Regions from separate parts of the Homo sapiens genome. Here region 2 is linked to region 1. The links come from fine-mapping of genetic effects on plasma protein levels. A gene starts in region 1. The other region holds a variant in brackets. All regions are shown on one strand. Distances are from middle to middle. Region 1 holds the start of WFDC1 (WAP four-disulfide core domain 1). Region 2 overlaps WFDC1 (WAP four-disulfide core domain 1).

Evidence for each region. PIP is the posterior inclusion probability: the model's chance that the variant is causal. The UK Biobank Pharma Proteomics Project read protein levels with antibody pairs (Olink). The fine-mapping took linkage between variants from a reference panel, not from the people measured, so its PIPs are less certain.
Region 2: its variant is fine-mapped to the plasma level of the WFDC1 protein (UK Biobank, PIP above 0.99).

Annotation. Positions count from the first base shown.
Region 1 is chr16:84,293,831-84,296,330 of GRCh38, forward strand. WFDC1 (WAP four-disulfide core domain 1) reads left to right here and starts at 1,048. Exons shown (of 7, transcript NM_021197.4): 1 at 1,048-1,285. The coding sequence starts at 1,142. It overlaps LOC124903734, which reads left to right. Exons shown (of 6, transcript XM_047435022.1): 6 at 503-1,008. The coding sequence ends at 1,008.
Region 2 is chr16:84,319,015-84,322,038 of GRCh38, forward strand. WFDC1 (WAP four-disulfide core domain 1) reads left to right here. Exons shown (of 7, transcript NM_021197.4): 4 at 417-557. Among named protein-coding and RNA genes, the nearest start is that of WFDC1, 26 kb to the left of the region's middle. RefSeq lists an enhancer at 451-972. The variant T/C (reference allele first, on the strand shown) is at 1,497.

The sequences.
Region 1 (2,500 bases):
ATACCAGCACTTTGGGAGGCTGAGGCGGGCAGATCACTTAAGGTCAGGAGTTTGAGACCAGCCTGGCCAGCATGGTGAAACCCAGTCTCCACTAAAAATACAAAAATTAGCCAGGCATGGTGGCACATGCCTGTTATCCCAGCTACTTGGAAGGCCGAGACAGGAGAATCGCTTGAACCCGGGAGGCAGAGGTTGTAGTGATCTGTGATCACACCACTGCACTCCAGCGTGGGTGACAGAGCAAGACCCGTCTCGAAAAACAAAACAAAACAAAAAACCAGTATCTGTCTTGGAAGTGCTGAGAACAGACAAGGGAATATGAAGTTTGTGAAATGTTGAGCCCGCTGTGCTACATTCCTGTAAAACACACACGTGCACATGCACACCCACGTGCACACACGCATACACATAAATGCACATGTGCAGATACACCGGCTGACAGTGACAGCACACTTATGTGTGTGAAATGCTTTATGTGCTCAATTTCTTTTAAATCTCACAGGAAACACACGCTATGAGGAACTACCCACATGCCCACATCAGGCAGGAGGACCCCGGCGGGTGCAAGGGTGGAAGTCGTCTCTTCATGGCTGCACCCTTGGCCAGTGCCAGTCCAGCAGCCTCTTTCAAAGAAGCTTTTATAGGCAGATAGTTTGTCAGCCCAGCTCGAAATGTGAACAAGGTAGCAGCCGAGCCCCCACCCATCCGGCTGCACTCCCCTGCATGTCCAGCCCCGAGCCCTGTGTCAAGCACACCTCCTTGGGAGGAGACCGCCCCAGCCTGCAAGGAAGTGCTCATTATGGAGAGTGGAGAGTGACAGGCCACTCCCGGCCACGTCTCCAAGCAAGCCGGTGCCCCCTCCTCCTGCTGCCACCGCCCACTGAGCTGCCTGGGCTGCAGACGCCCTGGTTGGAGCGTCTGGGGCCAGATGTTATAGGGCAAGCTAAAAATAACCGGGCAGGCCAGCCACCATCGAGGAAGGGGCATGTGCTGGACGCGGACACATGATCCGAGGGACCCTGCTGGGTGGAACTAAGAAAGTCCAGCAGACTGTGCACGCTCCTGTCCCCACTCACAGGCCCACGCAGCGAGGGGGGCCCCTCTTCTGTGTGCGTCTGGAAGGTCGCTGCCCAGGGAGGAAATGCCTTTAACCGGCGTGGGGCCGGGCAGCTGCAGGAGGCAGATCATCCGGGCTCTGTGCCTCTTGCTACTTCTCCTCCACGCCGGCTCTGCCAAGAATATCTGGAAACGGGCATTGCCTGCGAGGCTGGCCGAGAAATCCCGTGTAAGTGCCTGGGATGGGGAGGCTGGGGCAGCCTGTGTGGGTGGGAGTCAGCCTTGAGGAGAGGCGATCCCTAGACACTGCCTTCTCCTGTAAGTGCTCCCCCAAAACGTGGCAAGGCAGGCGTCTTCCTATCCGTGTGTGTCTGAGTTGTGTGGTGGGCAGATGGGGCTCACCCCCAAAAAAGGACCCTTATCTGTGAATCAAGAGGCAAAAGACACATCACAAATGTGCCAAAGAATCGTGCCTTACTTTTGCCTTGTTACAAAAGTATGCTTGCTCCTGAAAGACAGCATCTCATTTCGGAACCCCAGGATTTAAACGGAGCATTCCGTCTCCCTGATCAGTACCAAATGTTTGTGAAATACACTTATGCATTCATGTGGTTGTTTATTCATTCAGCAAACAGAATGAATACACTCTGTTAAACAGAATTTAGCAGAAACCGCTCTGGGGAAGGCACTCTGTGGGGTCCTGTGGATACAAGATAAAGGAGGTACCAGCCCCCATCCTCAAGGGTGGCGTGGCCGAGGTGCAGAGGCAGTTGGGTGACAAACGATGGCAGTACAAAGAGAAGGCATGAGGCAGTGAGTGGCAAGAAACACATGCCCTGGGGCCAGATGTCTGGGTGTGAATCGGGCTCTGCTGCTCATTAGCTGCGTGGCTTCTCTCAGGCAAGCTGCTTGACGTCTCTGAACCCCAGCAATCTCATCTGCAAAAGACAGAGGGATGCATTTCTTCACACAACTATGTCTGGGTCGCCACTGTTTACCAGGTACTGTCCTAGGCTGTGGGGATACAGGCCTCACATCTCTGCCTGGGGAACTCAATGGGGGGCTGGGGGCAGCAAAGAATAAATGAGAGAGATCTCATTTATTAGTATGTGCAGATTGCAAGTGCTGAGGAAGCAATAAAGCAGGAAGGGAACTAGGAGAGAGAATGGGGTGGAGGAGGCTATCATTTTTGGTTCCTCCCACCCCCCAGAGATCACAGATCCGCAGGGACGGAGTGAGCCAGGACGATATCAGCACACAGAGGGCTCAAGAAGGTAATGCTGGCACCCACAGCACCTGTGTGAGGATTGAATGTCTCAGTATGTAGAACGTCTTTGCAACATAGCAAGCTGGCAGTGCATCTTGGCAGCTTTCAATCAAATAATTGTGACTTTGTTTGGTGTTGCCTAACAGGGTAGCATGTAGGTTCCTTGGGGTAGGGCAG
Region 2 (3,024 bases), 25 kb after region 1:
GTGTGTGCAGGATTTGTGTGTGGGGATGCGTGCGTATATGTCTGTGTGTATTTGTGCGTCTGACTTGCTTGTGTAAATGTCTGTGTCCCCATGCGACTGTAGGGCTGAGTGTGTGTTTCAGGGTGTATCCGTGAACATGTCTATATGGATGTTGCTGAGCCTGTGAGAGTATGTTTGGGATCAGGTGAGCTTGGACTGCCTGTGTTTGTGTGCGTGTTTGTGGGTGTGCACGTGTGCCACATGCCGCTGAGTGAGACCCAGGGCCTAGCCTGGAACCTGGGGTACAGAGGCGAGGCCGCCTCTCTGGGTGAGGTGCGTTCCCTGCACCCGTCCCGGGAGTCTGCCTTCTAGACCCTAGCATGTGCACCTGTCCTGGGAGTCGGCCTTCTAGACCCCAGCGTGTGTCCCTCCTGCAGCAGAGGCGTGCAGCACCACGGAGGATGGGGCCGAACCCCTGCTCTGTCCCTCGGGCTATGAGTGCCACATCCTGAGCCCAGGTGACGTGGCCGAAGGTATCCCCAACCGTGGGCAGTGCGTCAAGCAGCGCCGGCAAGCAGGTGAGTGTGGCACCCCAGCCCTGATCCTGGCTCCTGCCCCAGTCCCCTTCTCCCTGTAAGCGCCTCTCACCCGCATGGACGACCTGCCCCAGGAAGCAGCCCCAGCACCTGGGCCTGACTGAGAGCTCCTCACATCTTCCCCCTGCCCGGCTCCTTCTTTCATGGCCCCTACCCTTTCCCTGTCACACTAGCATGTGACCGAAGCTCTTGAGCCAGCAGACTGGCTGCAAACCCCAGCTCTGCACCTCCCAGCTGGGCGACACTGGGGTTAATTTCTTCCTATCTCTGAGCCTCAGTTTCCTCATCTGTAAAATGGGGCTACTACATGCTGTTGTGGGGCGTGACTGAAATCATAAGTGCAGAGCAGTCGGAGCAGCCCTAAGGAATAGTAGGTGGTCAGTAAGCACTGGATGTTTTATATCCACGTATGTGTAGATGGACCCCGACTTACGATGGTCAACTTAAGATTGTTAGACTTTACGCTGGTGCAGAAGCAACATGCATTCTGTAGAAACTGTACTTCAAGTTCCCATCCAACCATTCTGTTTTTCACTTTCAGTATGGTAATCAAATTACACGACACATTCAATATTTTATTATAAAATAGGCTTTGTGTTAGATGACTTTGCCCAACTCTAGGCTAATGTAAGTGTTCTGAGCACAGTTAAGGTAGGCTCGGCTAAGGTATGGTGTTCAGTAGGTTAACTGTGTTCAGTGCATTTTGACTTAAGATATTCTCAGCTTGTAGGGGGTATATCAGTACATAACTCCATTGTAAGTCAAGAAGCATCTGTATCTGTTTTCAAACTGCATTGAATTAGAATTGTCTGAGAATCCTTAACTTCCAGAACTTCTGCCAGGACTGTTCAGTTTGACTTAATTTGTGTTCGTCTTTGGACACAAAGGCAATAAATAGATGAGTGAATTGTGTTGCTCTCA[T/C]TGGCATAATTTTCCCAAGAAAAGAAAGAACAATGGCACAGCGATTCCTGGTGGTATCTAAAACCATCTCGAACCCCACTCAAGGCAATCAAGTTGAAAGACTTCAATGTGCTTTTTGGCATGGAGTTTGGATGAACTGTGTGGTGAGCCAGGAATCTGGGACTTCAGGGTGGCCAGGTTCACCTTGTCAAAGTCAGTGTCAGTCAGACTGAGACCACACCCAGGGGCCCCTGTCCCCGCTTCGGCATCTCATAGCCCTAATAGCTAAGGACAGGACCCTCAGACAAGATTGGTGATAATTACAGTGACCCTATTTGCCGAAAGTATACTGGGGAGTGCATGATCTGCCAAAACCTCTTTTTTTTTCTGATTTGAGAATGTTTTTCTCTGAAGTGTTTCAAGAAAGGCATAGACGTAAAATCAGTCATGCATTTAATGTCATTATCATTGCAGATAAAGTGATGCAAATCCCGGAATCCTGAACTTTGAAGAAATTATCTACAAAAGGCTTTGAAACAAAGAGATGCCTTTTTGGTTTCCTCTACATTCCACTTGCTATTTGCAGGGCTTTGTTTGGGGTTATAGGGTGGCTTCTCCAGCCAGATAGCCTGGGCTGCCACAGCTACTCAGCCCCTTACTGCTGTGGGCAGCAAATAACATAACCTTTTCAGGCCTCATTTGCCTTTTCTGTAAAATGGGTTCATAATACTTGAGGTACTTCACAGGGCTCTTTGAGGAGTGAGTTAATCTGTGTAGAGTGTCCATCAATTCACAAGCACAGTAAACAACCTTCACTGTTTTATCACTGCTTGTCTCTAGACACTCAATCCTGCCGTGGGTGGGTGGGGTGTATGGTCCTTTGGAGGTAAAACCGCAAGGGCCTGCCAGCCACTGTGAGGCTGCTGGAGTGTGGAAGGGATAGCCTTTTCCAAAAGAGAGCTGTGGGGCGAGTTGTGAGTTCGTTGGGCTATGCCACCATTTATAATAATGACGGCATAATAGGAATGCCTTGGGCACTTGTCTTTTTCATCCCCTGATCTTTTCATTCAGCCCTATGATGTCTAAGACCAAGGTCAAACCAAGTCAAACTAGTTCTTAAGGGTTCAAACCAGTTAAAAAAATTCCCATTTCAAGACAGAGCTAAGCAAAGAGGGTCAGTCATTCAGTGGTGACCACACCAGTGATGCCTACTGTTAACATGCACCTTTGGAGTGCTCTCTTTAAATTAAGCTTTGCTGCAAGCCTGCAAAAGGAGAAGTAGAACCAGGAGGCAGTGCTGCATAGGTTTCAGAGTGCAGGCTCAGAACCACAGAAAGAAGTCCAAAGCCTGTAACTTTCTTCCTCCGTGGCCTTGAGCAGGTCACCCAACCTCTCTTAGCCTCAGTTCCTTGATCTGTAAAATAGAGATGGCGATGGTAACCATAGTGACTACTTCATGGGGTAGTTATGGGGCTTGAGTGAGAGAAACACGTATGAAGTGCTTAGAATAGCACCTGGCCCACTGTAGGTCCTCAGTGAATGTGTGCCA